Linked DNA regions of Homo sapiens: all the other regions are linked to region 3. Evidence: fine-mapped expression QTL. A gene starts in region 3. Each other region holds a variant in brackets. All regions are shown on one strand. Distances are between the middles of the regions.

Region 1 (8,697 bases), 330 kb after region 3:
AGAATGTCAATAGCACCAAGGTTGAGAGTAATTAGGTAATTCACAAAGCTGACTCTAAAGGATAATAAACTACTCTAAAACTTCCTTCTGTTCACATCTTCCTGAGCTAAGCAATGTGGGATTTAAAAAATTAAAATGAAAATAAACTATATACAATATTTTTACTGATTTTCTGCCTGTTAACATCTCAATAGAAATCTTACAGGAAGTAAAAAAGGTGGCTCGATTTATTGATATTCAAAATATCTCTCTGGCACTTTGTGATAATTATATGAACTACTAATGGCATTTAAATCTTATTTAGTCATTGGACTTCTTTAGAGATGTAGCTCCAGAATCCAAAGTGCTTTATGAAGAATTGATAAGCCCCATTATTCAGAAAGAAACAAAAGAATTCGTTTAATTGTGCATAACTGTAACAAAAGAATTCATTTAATTGTGCTTAACTGTGTACTTATGTTTCTGCCTGTATTTATGAAGGAAGGAGGACAGAATTCCACTAAGTGTAATATCAGCAGCAGCAATAGCAGCAGGATTATCATCATAAAGTAATAATACCATCATTTATTGAGCTCCTATGATATGCCCGACATCATTCTATGTAGTCCTATCACAATAACCATAGCACAATGACCCTATAAGCCAATGATTATCAATTACATTTTACAGATAAGGAAACTGAGGCTCAGAGTTTTAGTAACTTGCCCAACATTGCGTAACTACCAAGTACTAGAGCCTCTGTTTAAAGTCAGGTCCAACTCCAGCACTTTCCACTGGCTCAGCTAACACATGTCTATGTATACAAGACATCTTTAATGTCCCTACAGCTGTGGCAACTAAAAAAACTTACAATCTGTAACTCTCTTTCTATCAAAAGTTTCCATGCAGAGATGCCCAAGCTTGTCTAGGCTACTGTGAAAGAGGTGCCTCCTACTAGGCATACCTGGAATAACAGGGAGGGAAGAAAGGAAGGGGCGGCTAATGGAAGGAAATGTGTGAGAAGTAGGAAGTGCTGTCAAAGAAAAACAACTTTTTTTTTTCACAACTTCAAAATAACTTCAACTAGCCCAAAAGTTTTGCCCATCTAAAACCACACTGGTATAACATACCATTAGCACATCAGTTTCTGGTAATTGCTTCCAAAGAGTTCAAAATCATTTATATTTTTAAGTCATTCAATATTCTCATTGCAGGATTGACTGAATCAATAATTTGCTCTAGAAATTTTCTTTATATGGTTGGTACAAAGCTCACCTGTTTGCAAACTCCTGTCTAAAGGATCACACATTTCAAGTCATCAGATTTGGAAATAATGAATTTGGGAAGGAAATGATATCCAATTCTACTTTTGGATCATTTGGGAGCTCCTAAAAATGTTGACTGGAAAATCAAGGTTCTTATGACATATCTTGTTTATAAAGTTGGTGGTGTTGGGCAAAGGCTGAGCCTCTGAAACCAAGTGTTTGTTACCTGAACAGTCAGTTGCTTTGATTGGGACTTAACTTACATTTAAGTTAAGTGCTGCAATCACCCATATAACATGTAAATTGTCATCATGGAGAATGATCCTTTGTGCCCTTCCTAGACAATGTTTTCTACTCCAAGAATTAGTAACTCTTCAGTCTTCTTCCCTCAATTACTGTTGATTAGTTTTGGCTGTTCTTGAACTTCATATAAATGGAGTCATACAGGATGACCAGATTCATGACTGCACTCCTGAGCACATTATTGTATTTGTGAGATTCTTCCATTTTGTTCTGCACAGCAAACAGTTTATTCTTCTGTGTTATATTCCCTTATATGAATATACCACAATGTGTCTATTCTCCTGTTAGACTTTCTAGATTTAAGGTGTAATGAATAAAACTGCTGTAGATAATTTGTACTCATCTTTGGGGGAACTCAGTTCTCTGTGGTGTATACCTATGAACGGGTTTGTTGGAACATAGGGTAGGCATAAGTTTAGCTTTAATAGATACAACAATTTTGGAAACTATATGGAAGTATCAATTTATTCTCCTTGAGATTTGTTTTATGGCTCACCATCTATCTCTTGAAAGCTCCATGTCACTTGAAAATAATATGTATTCTAGTTATAGGATGTCATGCTTTATAAATGTCAGTAAGATCAAGGAGGTTGATAGTGCTAATCATAACTTCTACTCTTTGACCAATATTTTAATGTAGTTGTTGTTATAAATTGCTGAGAGGACATGTGAATATTTCTATGTGTAATTTTCTATTTTCTTTGTAATTCTATTTTTGCTTCATAGAATCTGAAGTTCTAGAGTTAGGCACATATATATTAATTATTATTATGTCTTTGTAATGAATAGAATTCTTCATTTAAAAACATCCCTCTTTATCTATAGCATTCTTCCTTGTCTTGAGGTTTACCTTGTCTGATGTTAATATAGCTGTTCTTTTTCATGTTTATTGTTTGCATGGTGTATCATTTTTTCATCCTTTTGTTATCACTCTTCCTCTGATTTAATTATAACAGAATGTCTCTGTAGACAGTATTTAATTAGATCTTCCTTTTTTCCTACTATCTGATAATTCTAATGTTTCAACTGGCATATTCACCTCATTTACATTAAATATAACGTTAGCCTAAGTTTGATTTTGGCTTATCATTTTACTATTTGATTTCTAATTGTCCCATCTGTTTCTCTCTTCTCTGTCTCTTCTGCCTCATTTTGAGTTAATCAAATATTTTTGGTACTTCTTTTAATTTCCTTTATTGGCATTTTTGCTATGTATCTTTGCATCTTTTTCATAATAACTTAGAGGTTACATTATGAATAATAAAATTTTAATTATAATGTTAATATTACACCATCTCACAGGAAATGCATGAATGTTCAATAGTATATGTCTACTAACCTCAAATCACTACTCTTTGTGAGGTTTTTGTGATACATATTCCATCTTCATACTTTATAAACTGAAAAATTTAGAGTTGTAATTTTTGCTTCACACAAATATTGAAAAATGCCATTGTCTCTTACACAAAACACAATAGTATCTTCTCAGCTGATTTTCCACTTTCATTCTAGTCCCCACTTTTAAGTCATATTTTATACAACAGCCAGAAATGTTTGCTTTCAAATGTAAATTGGATGGTGCCACCTGTCCCAAGCTTAATTTGCATCAAGGGCTTCCTAGGATGAAATAAAAACTCCTGGAAGTGGCTTCATATTAGTCTGATAGGATTGCCATAACGAAATACTACATTTAAGACTGCGTGGCTCAAACAACAGATATTTATTTTCTCGCAGTTCTGGAAGCCAGAGGTACATGATCAAGGTGCTGGTAAATTCAATTTCTGATGAGACTTCTCTTTGTGGCTTGCAGATAGCCACGTTCTCACTGTTTTCTCACATTGTCTTTCTTTTGTGAGTATGAAGAGAGAATGAGAGGGCTCTCTCTTGTCTCTTCCTCTTCTTATAAGGAAACCAGACCTACAGGATTAGGACCACCTGCTTCTGGCCTCACTTAAGCTCAGTTACCTTCTTATAGACCCTGTTTCCAGAAGCAGTCAGAGATTAGGGCTTTAACATATGAGTTGGGGGATGGCAGACACAATTCAGTCCCCAACAGACCTAAAATCATGTGGCCTGAGCCTAAGGAAGAATGGGTCTGTCTCACTTGTACACAACACAACACACAGGCACAAACACAACAGCTTGTGCCTATTAAAGAGCCTGTATCAATACAGGACGGACCACACTAGACCTATCTGTGTATGTGTAACTTTTATTGACTCTCAGATTCTGCCTCTTCAAGTAATTTATATGCTGGAAAAAATGAAATCATATTTTGAACAAGTAAAATTACAATACAACTTAAACCTAAGCAATGATCCAGGCACCGCCAGACAGAACGAATGTCCCTGAGTGCTTACGTTACATCTGTGTGTGAGGCCTGAGTACACTTACAATTTTGCACATTCAGGAGGACTTTCAATGCAAAATCTTAATGTAAAACTAGAAGATACACAGGATCCCCAGAAAGAAGACCAAAGAGAAGGAGAAATAATGAACTAAAAGTAAGTTTTGTAGAAGATTCAATTAACTATGGAGATAAAAAGCAAAGGAATTGGTACAAACTTAACCTAATTGCTAGGTATCTCAAGAAGTCTGAGTGATTACAATGAATATATTTACATATGACATTTACCCAGAAACAAGAAGAGGAATCATTCACTATCAAAATTTGCAAATGATTTTTCAAAACACCTCAACAAAAAGCCTGTGTCTCATACCTCCTAGGCCTGTCTGAAAATGAAAAGCTCCATTCTGTGATAATAAATAACAATTCTGGCTATTGTGCACATGTGCCCTTTTATTC[A/G]TTATTTTAATCTGGATGTTTGCCTAAATTGTCAATAATGCTTGTTTTCAAGATGTAAGGGCAAATGTAGCATTGCTTTATTCCACCTACCCAAATGAGACGTCTCTTGATCTGTAACCATTTGTATCCATTTTCTATTGCTGCTCTAACAAATTACACAGCAAATAAAGGGACTTACAGTTTTGTAGGTCCGAAGTCTTATGCAGGTCTCACCAGGCTACAGTAAAGGTTTTGGAAGAGCTGTGTTCTTTTCCGGAGGCTGGACAGATTTCTCCTTGCTCATACAGGTTGTTGGTGGAATTCACTTCCTTAGGTTGTAGAACTAAGATCTCCGTTCCCTTACTGGCAGTCAGCTATAAGCTGTTCCCAGTCTCTGTAGGATACCCACATTCCTTGGCTGGTCTACCCCTTCCTCCATCTCTAAAGACAGTAATAGCAAATCCCTCTCACACCTCGAATTTCTCCCCCTGTTTTTATTGCACCTCTTTATGACAAAACCAGGAAAAGGTGTTTCACTTTTAAGGCTGGGTGTGATTAGATTAGATGCCCCTGTGTAATCCAGGCTTCTCTCCTTCACTCAAGGTGCATCCCCTTGATCACACCTTCAAAGTTCCCTTTGCCATGGATGGTAACTTATTCACAGGTTCCAGGGATCAGGGTGTGAACATCTTTGGAGAGTCATTATTCTGCCTGCCACACAATTACGAGAAGGACTTTGTGTCTACATATAGGGCATCTCACTGCTGCAGCATTTTCAGACTCTCTCCTCTCCTTTCCCCTGGTTGTATGCAGATTGCTCCAAAGTAAAGAGCACTCTGCAAACAATTCTGTCCATTATTATGCACAGAAAATCAGTGTAAATCCACAAGGGCTATCATTTTCCCCTGTACTGTCTTTTTAGCCTCTCAAATTTGGCAGACATCTGAATGGTGTGACTTAGTCCCTGTTCCTCCAGGAAGATCAGCCCTTGTCACCCCTGCAGCTGTCAATCCTCCTCAAAGGGTCCAATTCTATGCTTCTATTTTGTCACAAAGTAAAAAAAGTGAGAGAACACAGCAATAACTCTTTGTGTTGATTACTTCCAGGAAAGGTGCTTCAAAAACAACTTCAATTCATGCCAAATAATTTTAATGAAAGAAGGAATGAATGAATGAACATTATGAAGGGAGTGGAGAGGAGAATGGAAGATTCATCTTTAAAGTAAAATAGGTTTTAAATAAACAATTTGTTACCTGTTCTTCTACCACTTGAATTGCTATTAAAATTGTATGCAAAGATTTTGTTTTCATGTTAAGAAACAGAGCTAAGCCGGGCTTGGTGGCTCACACCTGTAATCCCAGGACTTTGGGAGGCCAAGGTGGGCGGATCATAAAGTCAGGGGTTCGAGACAAGCCTGGCCAACATGGTGAAACACCGTCTCTACTAAAAATACAAAAATTAGCTGGGTGTGATGGCGGGCACCTGTAGTGCCAGCTACTTGGGAGGCTGAGGCAGGAGAATCGCTTGAACCTGGGAGGCAGAGGTTGCAGTGAGCCAAGATTGTGCCATTTCACTCCAGCCTGGGTGACAGAGCAAGGCTACATCTCAAAAAAAAAGAAAGAGCTAATAGATACCCTTTCTTATGTCTGAGTTCTTTCTAGCTATATATAAAAATGAACATTGTAATTCAGTTAAATTACAGAAAATGAGTTCAATATGTATCCCTTTAGGTTGGAGCAATCTGCATACAACCAAGGGCATGGAAAAAGGGGGAAATGTCTCATTTCCACAATTGTGACCTCATTTTCTTAGTGTTTGTGGCTTTGCCTACATCTGCTCCATATGGTGGTGCTATTTAGTATATAACTTGCAAACTCAGAAACTGTGTTTAAACTAAGATGTTCCTATAACTAAGGTGTTCACCTGTCACCAAGATTACCTTTCCTTTTTTTTCTCCCTGGCAGTTTTTATTTGACATACTGTATAATAAAATCACATACTTGCTTACTAATAAAAGTATTGCCATTCCATTCACACTTATAGAATTGGTAGCTATATTGGCAGATAACAAAGGGAAGTTCCCCATCCTTGGATGTAGCATCAGCTTTGCAGATCATGCAGTATGGATAAAATAGTATTGACATAACAAAGTCAAGACAAGGGCTATGACATTCATTTTGAAGGAATCATTATTCTTAGGAGGTTTTATTTGACTCCTTCACCTTCCTTTCCACCTTAGGGGAAAAAATGTTTATTTAATTTTTTTTTGATTGTTCACATATCTTCCATTGTTCAGTTCAATTTTCTCCCCTCAGGTGAACCGAACATAGCAACAGGAAAGACCTGGTAATGATGTGACAATTCTGAGTAAAGCAGCCACGAGAAAGTAGTCGGTATGTGTTTTTCAGACACACGCTCACAGACTGACCTCCCTGCCTGATTAGGCTGCAGTGGGAACAACTGCAGGTGCAGTCACCCCTGACAAAGAAGGCAGACTTGTATTAAATGTTCTACCTTAAATAAATGCCCAGGAAAAATGAGTAGCTACCTCCAAACCAAGCTGTAATACTGTGGGAAAGCTCAGAAGCCATGGACTTTCATCTCAGATAAGCCGATGGCCCTGTGGCCTGGAGTAAGTTCTGAAATTCTCAGTCCTTGTTACTTATCTGCATAATGAACATTCTCCGGTAGAAGAATTATAAGCTTCCTTCTGGCCAGAACATCCTATAATTTTAGTTATTAGAATGTAATGGCCATCCTCCGATGAAATAAAATATGCTCGGAATTCAAAGGCACAACGAAGGGATCACAACCTAATAGGGAAACTGGTTATGTTTTCTAGGTAGTATCTTGAAGTCCAGTCCACACCTGCATCTCAAGAACAAAGAGAATGGCTGAAGAGGAAAGCCCTATTGCAGCCTCTCATCCATTCTATAGATAAAAGGAAAACCTGAGGGCGGCAGACAGTTGATGTCCCTTCCCAAACAGCCTCAGGAATGAATATTTAACTCACCTTGCCCATCATTTGTTGAACTCCCTATGCAATAATGTGCTGGCTGGTACAACCACAATGAGAAATTAGGCAACAGTCTTAATATTAAGATTAATCTAATTAAGATACGAGGGAAACATTTTAAAAAGACTACTTGTAATACAATACTCTAAGGATGATCATTAATAACTGCTGGCACAAGTAGTGTAGGGATCAAATGTACATTATTTTGACACAATGTCTGCATTTCCAAGGAAATAGTATCTGTGTACTAAACCCATGCAGTGAGAGAAGATAAAATTAACTGCCTCTGAATAGCTGACATTGAAACAGGACTGAGCTTTTGTGCTAAATAAAGACTTCTATTTGTCCACTCTTTATACATAAGGTAAAAATCATGATGGAATGTAAAGGGAAATAAAAGTTAATGATTTTGGAACAAAGCTGCATGATGCAAGTGCTCCATTGGGAATAAACAGACCAGGAGCAAGTTGGAGGGTTCTGTGAGATGAAGGTCAGTTTCCAGTCCATTCTGCAGAATCAATACAGTTCCTTGGACTTGCAATAGGTCTCATAAGTCATAGATTGACTGGGCCATGTATCAACTTCCACAATGCATAGCTCTCAATGCCTCTCATTGGCAAGCATTGCTGAGCAAAAATCTGTGATTAGAATTTGCAGCTGGAGTGGAATGCAGCCCACATATAGACTGGCAGGGAAACTAGAGTGGACAACCAACAGCAAGTAAAGTACCATCACTTTCAGAAGACCGTATGTCAATTCCGCAATTGATTTCCAAAGACAAAACTGAAATTGCCATCAGCGGGCTTCTCTGAACATCCATTTCATAGATGAGGTTTGTCTCAATGAAACTGACATTATGCACAACTCCACAGGTCCAGAGAAGCATATTAATGTCCAGCCTTCTTTTTGATAATGTTTTCTCATGAAAAAATATTTGAAGAAATAAGGTAAGAAACAAAGAAAAGGAACAATAAGTGCCAGGAAATATCATTTATTCCCCATAGTTTGACTGAGTCAGGCACTCTTCCAGGTGCTAATAGTAAGTTAAAAAGGAACTGAACAATGAGATCACATGGACACAGGAAGGGGAATATCACACTCTGGGGACTGTGGTGGGGTGGGGGGAGGGGGGAGGGATAGCATTGGGAGATATACCTAATGCTAGATGACGAGTTAGTGGGTGCAGCGCAGCAGCATGGCACATGTATACATATGTAACTAACCTGCACAATGTGCACATGTACCCTAAAACTTAAAGTATAATAAAAAAAAAAAGAAAGAAAGTAAAAAATCCCTGCTTTTTTACGTAGAGCTCAGGAGATGGAAAGCAAACAAATAAATCAGCACGT
Region 2 (8,697 bases), 300 kb after region 3:
ATGCCTCAAATTGTTAAAAGGTTATGGGGAGTGTATTAAGAAGGTGATATTAAGTTTATTTTGAACATTTATACATTTTTAATTTATAACTATAAATTTGTATGGTTTTCTTTGACAAACATATTAAATACATTGTGTATATCATGTATAGTATATATTTGATATTTTGTATATATCACATATATAAATTTGATATGCACTAATCTCTATCATTAGTTTATTAGCTCATGGTCCTCGAATCACATTAATATATGGTCATAAGAAACTTTAGAATTAAATGCTTTTTAGACTCAACTGAGGATCCGAGTAATGTGCTAGGTCTGCATGGTACTTCCTTTCTTAAATGCTGGCAAGCCAGCATCTCACTCTGTCCCATGCTAGATGCGGCTTCTTGCCTCTTAATCTTGATTTAAAACAATTTCCCCAACACTATAATTTGCAGGGGGGTGTCATCGTGGTTATTTCCACTACCCAAAAATCCATCATTTCAGAAGGGTAAACTGTTTAAATAATACTACAACTTACCCAGAATAAGATAGTTAATATTTCATGTGCTTGCAATTTATAGAAACAAGTGTAGAATAGTGAAGAACAACAACTTTATAGTCAAATCTGAAGCCGGATAAGGTTAGGCCCTATAACCATCGTGAAAAGCTCCTCTGTCAACTGCTCAACTTGGAAAATAACAGTAATAACCTTGTTGGTTGCACATATGCATTAACCTTATGGTTACATACATGCATTAAAAATAGGCAGGAATAGGTCATGTATAGTGGCACTGTCTGATAATGTCTCCCCATCTACAACTAAAAATAGATGACCCACTACCTGGTTTCACTATATTTGCATTAAATATTTACAGAAATGTTGGATAGAAGAAAGATCAGACATGTTCCACGATGCCTCTGGAGAATTAGGGTAAAGCTGAGGCTACTGTTGTTACCAATCTCCTTCTAAGTTAGTAAAAGGAAAATTTTAACATTTGCATAAGGATGAAGTGAGTGATTCTAAAAACATGTGCTTTGCTTTAACAGAAAGTATGGGACCAAATGATGTAAAAGCCTGAGGGAATTTCCCTTCCTGAGATTCTGATTCTATTCCTTGCACTCTGCTAGCAGCTAGTCAGGGAGAGAGCTCAGGCAGAGAGTGGGGTATATGAGCAAGAGGGATATAAGACAGTGCTCCTATCTCAGAAGATTAGTCTCAGGAGAAGATCATCAGTTCTCAACAAGAACTAAATACAAATGGCTAGTGGCTGTCATATTGGATAACACAGCTTTCATGTATTGGGACTCAATTAAATCTCATAGTCCCATATAAATGTTAAAGTTTTACAGATTTCTGTTTACGTTTTCTTCAGCAGTTTTATCATTTTCAATGTGATTTACTAAAAGCAGTGCAGCCATTTGTTTTTCTAAATCCCTTCTTGTTAGTCTAGACTTTTGTGGGCGTTTATTTTACAACATTTACAACCATGAAAGCTAAACTTATGGCTTATTTCCCATATCAAGATTAGATCTACCTACACATTTTCAGTTTTATTTTCACATTTACTTTTATATTTTCAAAAATTCCTCCTTTGCTGATCCTTCCCAGAAGACATTCATACCTTAATAGAAAATATGAACAGCAAGTATGAGATGGGAATGTTTATTGTTCTTTCTAATGAATTTCATTTTTGTAAAGCTTGTTCATGCTATAGTCTGCTTAGTGAAGACAAAGCAAGGCTATCTATCATCTTTGGTTAGTCCACACAGTGTCAGACTATCATACAGAGACTCGAGTAACTTGATACTAAGAAATAGGAAATCTCTAATTAATCATAATGACTTAGAAGTTCTGTATTTGAAGTAGCAAACAGAATGGAGCAGGGATACAGTGTGATCAAAGAGAAGAAAATGTGGACATCTAATCCAAGGAAGCAAGTAATGATATTTTATTATCAAAATTATTCCTCAACTTCTTAGAAGTCATGATAGATATCTCAATTTTTAAAACTGAGAAATAACAGAAACTTCTTAATGAGGCCCTTATCTTGGTATTAAATTTTAATGTAAATGCTCACCTAGGACCTAAATAGATTGAAGAATGAGTAACGTTTCTGACATCTTTAATAGCAGATTCACAATAACCATTTAAGCTTTTGACACATGCACACTTATGTTTATTGCAACACTGTTCACAATAGCAAGACATGGAATCAACCTAAATGCCCATCAGTGATAGACTGGATAAAGAAAATATGGTACGTATACACCATGGAATACTATGCAGTCATAAAAAAAGAATGAGATCATGTCCTTTGCAGAGACACGGATGGAGCTAGAGGCCATTATCCTTAGCAAACTAACATAAGAACAGAAAATCAAATACCATATGTTTTCACTTATAAGTGGGAGCTAAATTATGAAAACTCGTAGAAACATAGAGGGGAAGAACAGACACTGGGTGGGAGGAGGGAAAGGATCAGGAAAAATAACTAAAGGGTACCAGGCTTAATACCTGGGTAATGATATAATCTGTACAACAAACCCGTTACAGTTAAGTTCTCCTAAAACCCAAACATAATACATCACACTTTAACTTAAATCTTTTCCAAAGTTCCTCATTATCTGGAGTCTTGGCCAGTCTTTCTCAGTTGGGGTTCCCTATGTAACAGACCTGCATGTGTATCCCTGAACTTAAAAGTTAAAAAAATTAAAATAAAAATGTTTCTTTCATTTTAGCTTCTATTCACTTATTTTTATTTCGTTTCCAGCTGTAGTTTTGCTCATTTTTCAACTTAAGAAAATTCACCCATGCCTGAGTAGGGCCTTCATTATAGTGAATCATAGGATGTAGACAGTGTCAATAAAATACAGCAATTATGCATGTACAATCTACAAGGAGAAAAAATCCTGTTTATATTTGTTTATACCCTTATGGAAGAATCATTACAACTTTCATAAAAGCATTATTTAGTAGGAATTAATATGGCAGAATAAAGCCATGGCTTTTAATGATCATTAGACAGACAGAGGCTACAAGATTATAATTTGTAGTAACTATAATGTAAGCCCACCATCAGTGAAATAAAGATCCCATGATCAAGAAGAGAAAAAGGGAAATTGCTATCATAATCTTAGTTCCTGATTTTAAATATCTGCTGGTCTTCCACTAATGAGAAAATAAATCCAAAACTCACCATATACAAATAAAGCCTCATTGTGTGGTATAGTTATCCATTTCTTCCAGGACATAAAACCAGGCTGTAGAGGACGTCATGTGAGTTATATGCACAAGAAACTTTTTATAGCATTTATCCCTGTTGGGAATTTACATGGATTTGCGCTTCTTTGCTTAATGCCTGACGCCTCATTCAGTGGTTAAAGGCTAAGTCTATTTTGCTTATCATAATAGCCACAATATTTGACATCCAGTAGGTAGCCAATCTATGTTTGCTTTAAATGAGTGAATTAGTAATTCTTGTGCATCCATCATCTTCTTTTGATTACCATTTTCATTTCCGTCATCACCCTTCATGTTTAAATGATCTAGTAATCATTAATTTCACATTCTTCAAACTCTCCTAAATACTGTTGCTGTTAAGTTCTCCTAAAACCCAAACACAATATGTCACACTTTAACTGAAATATTTCCACAGTTCGTCATTATCTAGAGTCTTGGCCAGTCTTTCTCAACTGGGGTTCCCAGAGACGATGAAACCCAAATGCCCTGGACACTCATTGTATGTAACAAATTAACTTCCTTCCTATCCATCTAGATTGCTGATAGTTGTTACCAACTTCGGAAGTGTTAAGAAAATAACCACACAACTTATTTTATGTAATGCTTAATTATTTTGTGAAACCCCAGTTAAGAAAGACTAGTTCCAGGTCAACAACATGGATCTGCCTTAATTTTCTAGTTTATTCTCCCGTAACTCCTCTTCACATCTCCTTGGCATCATCCAAACCAAACGCTTTGCAGTTACCCTCAGCTGTTTCTGTTTCCACCCATTAGTAGTCTCAGTTCCTTGCGTATTCATTATGTGTCTCTTTGGATAAAATTTTACCACGTCTTTAAGATTTACCACAAATATTCCATGAAGATTTTCTCTACTGACCCAGTATAATTTTTATTTCTTTTTTGGGCTTTCTCAATATTGTTTCACTTAACCCCATTTAGCTTATCATTACAGATATTTTTTGTAATTTTTTTGTCTCTCCTGTGAGTTTCTTGAAGGCTGAACTTTTGTCCACAGGAAAAAAACATCATGTCTTTTGCAGAATAGATGCTAGGTTCAGAGGGCAGACCATCAGCTGCTGAGGGACAAGGTCTAAGCCGTGTGATAGCATCATGGAAAGATGTAGGAGAAAGAACAGTTGTCCTCTAATACAAAATATCATTGTTCCACTACTGCCTGGCATAAAGAACAAAGGCTTATAATGAGCCAC[G/A]TCATGACAAAGCATTAAACATTAGGAGAAAGTATCAAGGGATTATTATTTACCTTTTCTTTGCAGATTTGTGTCATTAATTAAAATACAAGGATCTCAGACACACACACACACATACAGACTTTCTATGTCAGAGAGAACTATGCTCTATACTTAATCACTCTATTCAAGGGAAAGTGATTGGCATAATTGCATAATTGAAAAGAGAGTGAGATGCTTTCTGTCAAAATTTGATTGCAACACTTTCCTTCAAACTTCAGGAAGTTTCCTCTGACTATGGTTGAGACTCATTTTCTTGAACAAGTTGCCTCGATTATGCAAACATTACAGTCTTTTTTTTTTTTTTCTTTTTTTTTTGAGACGGAGTCTGGCTGTGTCACCCAGGCTGGAGTGCAGTGGCGCAATCTCGGCTGACTGCAAGCTCCGCCGCCCGGGTTCACGCCATTCTCCTGCCTCAGCCTCCAGAGTAGCTGGGACTGCAGGCGCCCGCCACTACGCCTGGCTAATTTTTTGTACTTTTAGTAGAGACGGGGTTTCACCACGTTAGCCAGGATGGTCTCCATCTCCTGACCTCGTGATCTGCCCGCCTCGGCCTCCCAAAGTGCTGGGATTACAGGCGTGAGCCACTGCACCAGGCCTAACATTACAGTCTTTTTGAGCAACTCTTTACTAATATTATTAACATATAATTATACAGTTCTATAAACATCCATGTACCCTCTTGCTCTAAATATATATGCATATACATGTATATACATATATATACACACATACGCTCATACATACATACAGGTGTACCTTTGAATGTATAGCCAGTTTCAGTTTTCTATATCCAGTTGCTTTCATAAAGCTCACTGTAATATGTAATCCACATCTGCAAAGCTGATTGTGGTGCTATTCTATTAGCAACGTCTTCCTGGCACATTCTCATTTATTATATTTAGTACACTATTGCTGCATTGTGTTAAATGCCCCCCTGGTGGCTATTTTAACAAGTAAACATGCATTTTTAAGTACTTAAAGAATCAGAATGTAAATCAATCACTACAAGTACATAACGGTCAATGTTTTATATAAAATTTTGCTGTTGGCTTACAGGTTGTTTACTGACCAGATTTAGAAAAGTATCTATTATTTGAAAATCAATTCAATTAAAAACTGTCTACTTTTGAGTCTGGACCTAATAGCAATCAACATATTCAGAAAAATTTGAAAAGTGTGTGGTAAGAGGTCATGAAAATTAACTCTGTTGGTGTAGAGTATTCCAGTAGAGAGCTGGCTGCTAGTCTGCAGTTTGGCTAGCATCTCTTACCAAACCTTGGCATGTCTACTCACAAAACTGATAAACTAGAGACCATCATATCATTTATGTTACATAAGTTCTTTTTTTTTTTTTTTTTTTTTTTTTTTTTTGAGACGGAATCTGGCTCTGTTACCCAGGCTGGAGTGCAGTGGCGCGATCTCGGCTCACTGCAAGCTCCGCCTCCTGGGTTCACGCCATTCTCCTGCCTCAGCCTCCTCAGCAGCTGGGACTACAGGGGCCCGCCACCACGCTTGGCTAATTTTTTTGTATTTTTAGTACAGATTGGGTTTCACCGTGTTAGCCAGGATGGTCTCCATCTCCTGACCTCGTGATCCGCCCACCTCGGCCTCCCAAAGTGCTGGGATTACAGGCGTGAGCCACCGCGCCCAGCCATACATAACTTCTTTTTCAAGTTAAACATCAGTAAATAAAGATATAGAGTTATAATTATGTGAGTATGTTTGATCATAATTTGACTTACAACAGTCAACGCTAAAATATCTAAAAATATATTCCTCAAGCCTTAAAAATGTTTATGAATGAGCGAACAAAACAAAGGCAACAAAAACCATATAGCATAAGATATCAAAGAAAGCACCAAAACAGAAATTACACTGAGCATTATTAAAATTAAAATTAAAAGCATTATAAAATTATAAAAAATTATAAAAAGCATTATAAAAATTAAAAGCAGAAGAAGCAATATATCATAGTAAGTGGAAATGAGATAAATTTCCTATTAAGCCTCTGACTGACCAATAGATAACACAAAGTGTTACCACACCCATCCAGGCGACTTAAGACTAAGCCCTCAATTGATGGAAACACCTTAAAGTTGTATCAAGAGCCCCAACAGAGAAATAGGCCCCTTTTTTGCAATAGTAAATTGTATTATACTAGAAAAATTGGTAATTCTCTGTAATGGAAATCTCGAGACAGCAAATACAAGGCCGTCTCAAAAGAAAAAAACCCAGAAGCCAATCAGCTGCTTGAAAAAATCATGTAGCGTAACAATACCTTGCAGTTTGCAATGACATTACCGAAGTTCTAGCTCATAAGAAAGCTAGAAAACTAGAAAATAGACAATAAAAAACAAGTTAGAAACAAAAGTTACTCTTCTAAAAAGAGTAGGAAGCAATGTGACTCAAACTATTCAGTTCAACTAGCTGTATGACTTGGAAAAAAATTACCAACCTTCCAATCTTCAATCATTTCATTGTAAGTATAATAAAAAGTTACTGCTCTCTCAACTTTTAGCTCTTTAAAATGTTACATCCTGTAAGCCAGTTTGCATTCGATATGCACACACACAAATACAGAAACACACATGCACAGTGGGATCAAAGTAGGTGAGTGATGTCTCTTGCTTACTTTTTTCCCTAAAGATTGAAAGGTTCTTTAAAACTTTATCCACACATAGATATCCGGGAAATGGGACTAATAAGGCAGAACTCACAGAGCAGATTTGCAGATTAAATAGGATTACAATATAAAACACTAAGCATCATACTTTGCACAGTTAGTGGTCACTGTTATCACCATTGGTTCCCAATGCCGTGGTCAGCCATGTGAATTACTGAGGGTAAGTTTTGAGCTGCGCAAAGGAACACTAGCATGTTGTCATTTGTACATTTGACTTATGCAAATCCAAGTGTAGGTGCTTGAGGAAAAGAACAGAGAGCGAGTACTGACTATCGACTTTCCACTCCTATCAATGAACACATGCCACAGTGGAAGTACAACCCTAGGAACAGAATGTGCTGTTTTTATCAGTCAACCCTTCTGTCTCCAGTATTGTGAATATCTCAGCGCACAAGTATGATTCTGGGGTTAAATGTGTACATTTTCATATAAGATAAAGCCAAAACGCAAGGCAAAAGTTCATCTGATAGTCAAGTGAAGACACAGTGATTGGATCAACGCTGTAGAAAAAGCTGTTTGGCTTTGTTGGTCTTACTGAGGTTATTCATGTCCATAGTATGTATCTTATGAGTGATTTGTGGGAATATTCAAGAGGAATATTTTACTATATTCCAGTTCCACCTTACAGGCAGACTTTAGAAACCTCAATTGTATAGGATGTACATTCACTTTATAAATGTGAGACGAAGAAAGGGAAAAGACAAGAATTATTTTTAATGGCCCCAATAAATGTTGGGTTTGCAACAAAACTCAAATCCAGCCCAGAAGCATAAACAGCAAGATGAATTGATCAGAGTGTGCCAGATGAAAGCTTAGCTAGTTAATTATTATATCATCTTAAGTGTAAAGACCAAAGATGTTGCAGTCATCAAAAGCAAACTTGATCACTAACCAGAGAGTGGTTCACGGTAGAGGGAAATGAGAAGAGGATCTGGTCTTGGGAAATGCCAACGACATCAACCCATGGACTGGAGACATGGCTAAAGATTCAAGTATCATGGGATTAAAATGCAGGGATGGTCATTTTATAGGCATATGCCTCTTTGATGTGTGTGTGTGTGTGTGTGTGTGTATGTATAAGAAAGAGAGACACAGACAAAGAACAAGATGGGGTGTTAGGGGCAGTAGGAAACTTGAGGAGAATACTAGAAACTGCCAGCAGATGATACAGCATTGAACATTTAGGGTTCTGCCACCTGAGAGGTGACAATCTAAGCTATGTGATTCTCAGGTACAGGAAAGGAACCTTAAATGCTTATTTGGCTGGGCTCTTACTGGTCTCAATTAGGGGGGCCACTGGTAACTACTAGACAGGATTCATCAGGAAGGACCAATCTGAGGAAATTGAAAAGTAGGAAATTAAACTAACGCAATCCTCCTCTCCCTAGTTATTCATTTAAAAGTTTGCCTCACTCTCAGTCACATGCATGGTGTCCAGGGCAATTTTCTACCCAGCTGGCCATGAGCAGGAGTGACTGTGCACCCTGAATGTCAGAGATACTTCTTCACAAGAATCTGTGAAGACTGCCAGCCCTG
Region 3 (8,697 bases):
AGCTAAAAATGGAAGAACTATTCTTAGCCCATGGGTCATACAAAAACAGTCACTACTAGCAGGTCAGATTCAGCCCATGGGCCACAGTTTACCAACCTGAGTTAAATATTTTATTATCTTATGATAGATGTTATATAATTCTATTAATCTATTTTCTTTAACAAAAGTCAATTTAATCTTGATATACTCATTAGCTCCAATACAGAAATTGCTTACATATGATATAAATTCCAAAATTAATTTTACAAGACAATAATCTTTATTTCCTAGAGTAAGCACCAGGTATTATGTGAAAGTTATGTTTGATCCCCATGTTGGCCCATGAGTCACGTTATCTCCAGAGCTAGAGGCTGCCTTTATCAGAGATTATTGAGATGCATGTAATAAGAAGTGGAGAAAATGGACTGAATAGATGAAAATAAATCACCATTGCTATTAGAAAAGTGAGTCAAAGTACGTGCTGATCTTTATAGGGGCTAGCCATTTATGCATTGCCTCATAGAATTATATTTTATCAGTACTTTACTATTGCATTCTAGTTATTTTCTGCTATAGGAGTAAATATGGTGGGGGGAGGAAAAGAAAGTAGCTTCTAGAAAGAATTACAAGGTTGAGTTTTAACAATGTGAGAATCTGTCCAGCTGTCTCCCAGGACCCACAAGAGTGATCATCTACTTAGGCAATTTGCCTTCATCTATCCTTCAGTGCTTCTTTTAGGGTAGGTATCAGATACGGCCTTTATTTCCATCAGAGAAAAGAAAGAACACAGTGAGATGTTAACTTCTAATTAAGTCATTGGGGAGCATTAATTATTCTCAAGAGTACGGCTCAGTATACCAGTAACTAGAGAGCCTCCCTCACATAATCTGCAAGAGTTAAAATAAAAGCAAACTCTTATCAGCCTTACTACTGTACCCATTCCTTCTTTTGGGGTAAGTTGACCCCATCTTCAACCATGTCTTAATGTTCAAAAACTGGATTTATAAGAGCTATTAAAAAATAGAGAAATGTCTCTGTTCTTAATGCATGTCTCTTAGTAGCAAGCAAAGAAACCAAGAACAGCCAGTGCAGCTTCTCAAAGAGCACACCCATCTGCAAGGATCCGTCTCTAAACTTTGATGGAAGGGACACTTCAATATAATTGTAAAAGCTCATCTTGATGAGAACAAAGAGAAAAAAATTATGGCTAGTCCACTGCTTTTGAAATGTCAGACAGGATACTAGTAGGCAGGGAGCGTGGTTCATTCAACATATTTCATCTTTAGACAGATAAGTACTTAACAGGGCCACCAAAAATATGCAAGCACATGAGTCTAGTAGTTTACAGATATCTACATACACATATACGTATATACAAATGAGCACGAGTCTAGTAGTTTAGATATCTACATACACATATACCTATATACAAATGAGCACATATACATATATGTGAACATATATGTTTGTCTTTGAACAGAATCCTTCTAATGTAAAGTTTCCCTGCTGTTTAATTGGATCAATTAACATTCAAATTAAAGTGCACCTAATCCCTGAGCTGTACTGGTTTTGCAGAGTTCTGTCCCATGAAAGCTTTCAAACTGGCAACCTTGGGCTGACTCTGTAGATGACAGATTTGCTCCTGGCTCATCAGCTGTAAATAAAGGGGAAAAGTCTTTCTAGTCCTTTAATTTTATTTATTTATATTCAGTTATTTCCAATATTACTATTGGTAGTCAAGACTGACTCACTTTTTCTTAATATAAAGTCTTGTCCAGAAGAATTATTGGAGTCATTATAATACTTTAGAAATGCATATGCTGGTTGATAGTTGCTTGTCCTTACACTAAATTCCAGTCTTGCTGGGAAATATATATACACTTGTCCTTCCAAAAAGGATGAAACATATGAAGTACTTTCCACCATGGCTTGGTACAAGTAGACCTTACTTCTTCCAAAAAGAAAATACTTCTTAAATATTGAAAAATGAAATAGAAATTGAGAAATGAAATATTTTCTTTTACACATACTGCTGCAAATCATATTGTCAAAATATTCACAATAAATTACTGAGTGCAACTTTAATTATATAAGGTCATTTCATTTTATTTTTGACACTTGAAGAACAGTCAACTCCACATGCATGGTAAGCAAGAACTCCAACTTTAAATGTTTTTTATAATGAAAAATCGTATAGGTTTTGCAAGTTCATCAGATGTTTAAAAGAGCATTAGACTACTTCCTTAACAAACCAAGGCTGAAAGAATATAGAACCAGCACTGAAATTTTAAGTGTCAGTGAGGGATCCAACCAGAGCCAAGCAGACATAAATATTACACTCTCCTCAGATCTCTTTCAGCACCTTTTCTTTTCTAAGAAGATATATGGCAAAAGAAAGCTATTTAATGTTGATGTACACCCTACACTTTTTATTGAGCTTCAAGAAAACAAGCAAACATAAACAACTAGCAGCCCAAATAATTAGATTAATGTATTTTAAACCCAACTACAGGCAGTCTAGTGGAAAGACTGAATGGAGTACAGGCCAGATTTAAGCTCTGCTTTTCTTGAGGGAAGGATGCTTGGGGTGATGTGCTTTACATTGTAAGAGTGACCTCTAGTGCTTTTCTTTTTGGTTGAACTTTAGTGGTTGGAAGATGAATTACTTATGCCTTTTCTACAGAACTTCCATTTGTGTGTGGGTGTTGTTGTTATTGTTTGCTTGTATGATGCAATGTTTTTCTAATGCTACCATTATAAGATTCCAAGGTTTTGACTAGGTGAAATTATACATTTTATTGACTTATGAGATTATCACAACACTCAAACTAAAGTTGAATCTGATGTGCAGCACCTGAAGTGAGGTTCCTTCTTTCAGAGTGATGGATACCCTGTGACATTAAATGAGCCCATTCTGAACTGAAACACGAAATCACGGGAGCCAGGTACTGTGAGGGGACATTTGACTTGTGCCCATGAGTTTGTCATGTTTTTCACATATCAGAACTCTTAACATAGTCAAGTGATATGCCATAGCAAATGTCTGATTACTGCCTCTGTTCCCCAAATCTAAGCCTGATGATACAGCAGCAACATAAATTCCTGGACAGGCCTCATAGCCAGTTCTTGGAAAGCAAATGAGCTTTTCCTTTAAAATCCAAGAAAAAATAAAAAGTTGTATTTGCCAAGCTTGTTTGTCATTAATCAGGAGGGGAAAATTCTCCCATTTAGAGAATTTAAGCCAAAGATAACTTTTAAAACTTTTTCTATCTCTAATAAAGAGTGGATGAAGGGAGTCTGCCAAATTATTATGGATGATATCTAAATTATAAATAAGATTTCAATCTTCCCTAAATAGGTTCTATTTCATCAGAACATTCAATTACAAATTTATGCAGTTAAGCATTCAACCACAAAGGAATCCTACTTTTGAAAGACCACCTGACTGGTTTTCCTTTAAGCGAAATGTAGGAAGAGGCTCCTCTTTCCGGAGAGCGCTAAGTCTCATTCTCTTAGCAGCGAGGGCACAGCTCTTAATACTGAGACTCGCCTCAGCCAGTGCTGGTGCTCCTGAAGCCTGCAGTACATTTCAGTTATTAGCCTGCATTATTTTAAAGATGCAGGCAGCTACTGGTCTGCCCAATTGCAAACTTCAGAAATCTAAGCCAATGCAGCATAATGTAAAGTCTGCCAGTTGTTTTCCTCTTAGACATAATTCCAATAAAATTCAGTAGTTCTTTAAAAAAGAAGAAATGAAGATATTCACAGGCTATTCCCCCGATAAGATGCTAATTTCATGTTTTACTAGAACTTGGGCATTCTCAATGAATACTCAAAGACCAGAGGGTAAGATTCTGCGAGTAGACAAAAAGAGAAATGACACTTTGCCTATTTTGACCAGACCAAGAGGAGAGACAAGTGTTAACCGGTCACATTGGCAAGATTTTTAAGTGATGCTTGGTTTACAGCAATACGCTTTGCAGCAATCCCAGCTGCAAATAATCATCATCAAACCAACAGAATCAAAGTTTTGCAGAGAGCCCCCCAGCAAGTTTTAAATCATTTGCTGTATACTTACAGGAATTCCCAGCTTCGACTCTGTTCCAATTTTGAGTAGATAACAGAAGTAGCGTCTTGAGGACAGCTCCCGTGACAGATCCCATGTTCACATTTATTGGGCTCCCCCAAAAGATCTTGAGAGGCTCTCAGAGCGCTCCAGTCCTCTTCTCAGTAGCTCTGCCAGCTCTGTCTGGGTCTTCAGCCCCTCTAGGTCTCTGTCTCTCCCCCTCCCTTCCTCCTCACCTCCCTCCGTCTTTTCTTCTTCCCTCCTCCCTCTCTTCTCTCTCCCTCTCTCTCTCCCCGTCTCTGTCTCTCTCTTTTCTCTCTCTCTCTCACACACACCTCCCTGACTCCTCACTGAAAAGCACTCAGCATCTTTCCTAACAAGCATCCACACCGCCGAGGCCACGCCCACTCCTCGCAGCAGCGGTCCCACAAATTGGCAGCAGCATCCTTCCTTCCAAACACACAACAGCGCTCGAGCTCCGCTGCACCCAGAGGCGCGGCCTCCCGTTCGTGGGCCTCCTTGGGGCTCCCTCCCTTCTCTTCTATTTTCCAATAATCCTTAACCCTTTTCTCCCAGCTGGAGGTGTGAGTGGGGGAAGGGACAAGGCGGTGGAGCCTTCTGATTTTCTGGAGGTCTTGCATTTGCAAGAGCCAGAAAACACACTGAGCCATTCCTGATTATCCGGGAGTGCATCCAGGTAAAATTGCATTATGTTTCAAAACAAAAGCATAAAATAAGACAGAAATAACTAAGCAGCATTGGGAAATTGTAGCTAAAACCGTCCTCAGGGAAAATACTTGCTGTTGTTTTTCTCTGTTTCTATAAAACTGTACTCTTCAGCGAGGGTGCCAGGATTTTATTATGGAAATTCCCCACATGGGAACAGACATTCCTGCTTAGCAGATATTTAAAATCATCTGGTAGTAGTCTGCAAGAAATTAACATTTCTTATTTTAATGCTTCAGGTGTATAAATCCACAAATGAAATGCTTTGGCTAGATTTATGTTGATGAATGCATCATGCTGTGAATATGAAGTACCATTCTATAATCAAAATTTTTAATAACATTTCCAAAAAGGCCCAAAGTAGGAAATGAGGGAATACTGAAGAAAGGGACCTCCACCACCACCACATACACACATGCATACACATTCACACAAACACTGAACAATGTGACGATGTAATTCAGGTGACTTAAAGGAGAGAGGAGTAAAGTTGAATTTGGAAGATCAATGATTAAAGAAAAATTACTCTTTGAATGGCTGGTCCATGGATACAACTGTTTCTTGAATGGAATTTTAAAATGTCTAAATAATGGAGTTACTATCACATAACAAGAAGCATGTCACATGGTTCATAGCAGATAAATAATCTATTTAAAATAAATGTCAAGATGTTTTACTGATAATGTGCTAGATTTTATACAAATGGAAATCCTGGAGTTCTTAAGTGCCTCTTGGTAATCACAAATTGGAAGAAACATAAGCCTTTAACACCACTTTCTTATGGAATAATGAGAGTGGGTTTGTCAAAGATCAGATAGGTTTGTCAAAGAGTGAGAAAATGACAGAAATACCCGTAAGAACTAAACATGCTTGTTTAGCTCATGCCTGCAAACAAAGCAGAATGCATCTTTTTTCTTTTCCTGTTTTACAAGAGAAAACAAGAACAGAGAATTTAAATGATTCGAAGAGGTCATAGAGTTAGTAATAAATGCTGAGGACTGGATTTGGCTTTTCTGACTCCAGTTTTACTGCTCTCACCCTAGGACTTATTGCCCCTAAATCAGAGTATACCTCCTTCCTGACCCTTGTCAGTGGCAGCAAAAACCTTAGGCCCTAGGAAAACACAGCAAACACTTTGGGAGGCCAAGGTGGGCAAATCACTTGAGGTCAGGAGTTCGAGACCAGCCTGGCCAACATGGTGAGATCCCATCTCTACTAAAAATAAAAAAAATAGCAGGGTGTGGTCGCAGGCAACTGTAATCCCAACTACTTGGGAGGCTGAGGCAGGAATTCGCTTGAACCCGGGAGGCAGAGGTTGCAGTGAACCAAGATTACACCACTGCACTCCAGCCTGGCCAATAGAGCGAGACTCTGTCTCAAAAAAAAAAAAAAAAAAAAAAAGGATAAATACAATAAAATAAAGAAAGGTCATGGGTTGAGTGTTTATTCTGTGTTCCTAGACTTGCATTCCTGATTTTATTTTTTCAATCATATGCTAAGTAAAAGCAGATATAAATTAACAGTTTATGTTAACTAATTATTGAAGGAGATTAAATTTTACTGAACACATACTATATGCCATTTGTTATCTAATTGAATAATTATATCAGTCCTTTGAAGAAAATATCATGTCTGTGGGACGGTTGTGGGCTCTCCAGAAGAAAAAAGTTGTCTCGTTGTTACAATATTGTATTTAATTGTTCTCTTAAAACAAATTAGAGAATGCATCTTAAATGGATAAGTACACATAGCAAAAATGAAAAATAAACATTTTATAACAATAATAACTTCTTTGGGACAATGTATAAATTATTATAGTGACCAATACTGGCGGATTTTTCCATATCAATGGGCTACAGTAATAGAAGGAATTGGGGGCTGGCCCTCAATAGAAGACCTGAGCATTTCAAGTCACTGCAAAACCTGTCTCTGCCTGATGGCTGCAGAGGGGTAGAGAGTTGCCTAGACAAATGAAACAGTGAGTGCTTGAGATATGGTAAACAGAGAGGCCTCAGCCGGGCGCGGTGGCCCACGCCTGTTATCCCAGCCCTTTTGGAGGCCGAAGCGGGCAGATCACGAGGTCAGGAGATCGAGACCATCCTGGCTAACATGGTGAAACCCCGTCTCTACTAAAAATACAAAAAATTAGCCAGGCATGGCGGCAGGCGCCTGTAGTCCCAGCTACGTGGGAGGCTGAGGCAGGAGAATGGCATGAACCCAGGAGGCGGAGCTTGCAGTGAGCTGAGATCGAGCCACTGCACTCCAGCCTGGGCGACAGAACAAGACTCTGACTCAAAAAAAAAAAAAAACAAAACAAAACAAAACAAAAAAACCAGAGCGGCCTTGATACAAGCTTCCACTGTTGTTTTGATTAAATGACTCAATGATGCTGACCTTTCGTTTATTTATTTTATGACCCGATAGGAGAATCATGACCAAAGAGTTACTGTGGTATAACATATGACAACTATTGAATGCCTTGTGCTTAGTGGGCCCTCACTTACTTCCCAGCTTTAGATCTCTGCATTAAAACTGTACAGAGAATTGGTCTAAGCAGGCAATGTCAGAGCTTGGCCACCCAGGTTCAGTGTCTGTACAGGTTCCACCACCCACTAGCTGCACGGCCTTGGGCAAGCTGCATCAGGATAATAATCCTTGATCCTTAATTTCCTCATCTGTGCACCAACGATGAGTACGGTATCAACCTCATGGTTAAGACAATGTCCTGTGAAATGAGCATGCCTAGGAGGCGCATGATCAATATTCCTTTTGTAATCATTATATTAGTACAACTCACACGACACAGAAAAGAAATCTGATGAGCAGAGGGATTACAGCTTGTGGGATATGACCCACTGGTGGCAGAAAAGGGTTCATCTCCAAGACCTACTAACTTATGCATCATTTCTCCATTCCCTCCAGGATGGTGTTTAACATCAGAAAATCGAAGGAAAAGTCAGAAAAGTGTGGAGATCTAATTTTGCACACCTGTACTGCTGATTCAGATTCCTTTAATCACTTCTCCCTGTGTCTGTATTTTGGTTATGTTTTCCACCAATTAAGAAAAGACCCTGGTGTTTAAGGTCTCCCACGTCCATACTATAGGTTACACCCTGCCTGGCAAAAGCCATGTAAATCAGATCAAAATGTTGAAATTCTTAAAATCAGGCTTTGAATTATTTTCTTGTTACAACTTGCCAGAGAACTGTATATCCCACCACAGTGGTCCATGGAGGATCCTAAACTATAGTTTAGACTAGAAAAGGGCCAGAAGGCAAGAGTGGAACTATATTACATTGAAAGACTAGAAAGAAATTAACATACAATGTTTTTGTTTCATTTATTCATCTAACAGTTATTTTACCCTACATTTCTATTATAGGAATCTTTTCATTTCAAATCTGGGTAATCATTTCATTTCTTTTACATTGTTTGATTTGTCTTTATATCTTCCAAATGAAATGGATACTTTTTAGACATTGTGCTTTTACCTTCATTTTTATTGTAGTTAAAAAAAATACAACATTAAATTTACCATCATAATCATTTTTAAGTATAGTTCAGTAGTGATAAGAATATTCACATTGTGATCCAACAAATCTCTAGAACTGAAACTCTATACCCATTAAACATTAAATCCCTCTCTTCCCTCCCCTCCTGCAGCCATTGGCAACCACCTTTCTACTTTATGTTTCTGATTTTGACTACTTCAGATGCTTCATATGAGTGGAATTATATGGTATTTGTCATTTTGTGACTGACTGATTTCGCTTAGCATGGTGTCCTCAATGTTCATCCATATTGTAGGATGTGACCGGGTTTCCCTCTTTTTAAGGCTGCACAGTATTCCATTATATGTATACACTGTATTTTCTTTATTCACTCATCTCTCAGTGGACATTTGGAATTCTTCCACCTTTTGACCA

The links.
Region 1: its variant is fine-mapped to the expression of CNTNAP4 in hippocampus (GTEx, PIP above 0.99). The same link has a PIP of 0.9 or more in caudate and substantia nigra.
Region 2: its variant is fine-mapped to the expression of CNTNAP4 in putamen (GTEx, PIP above 0.99). The same link has a PIP of 0.9 or more in prefrontal cortex.

Annotation. Positions count from the first base shown.
Region 1 is chr16:75,944,345-75,953,041 of GRCh38, reverse strand. No RefSeq gene overlaps it. Among named protein-coding and RNA genes, the nearest start is that of CPHXL, 220 kb to the right of the region's middle. The variant A/G (reference allele first, on the strand shown) is at 4,354.
Region 2 is chr16:75,972,440-75,981,136 of GRCh38, reverse strand. No RefSeq gene overlaps it. Among named protein-coding and RNA genes, the nearest start is that of CPHXL, 250 kb to the right of the region's middle. The variant G/A (reference allele first, on the strand shown) is at 4,437.
Region 3 is chr16:76,273,108-76,281,804 of GRCh38, reverse strand. It overlaps CNTNAP4 (contactin associated protein family member 4), which reads right to left and starts at 4,404. Exons shown (of 24, transcript NM_033401.5): 1 at 4,058-4,404. The coding sequence starts at 4,142.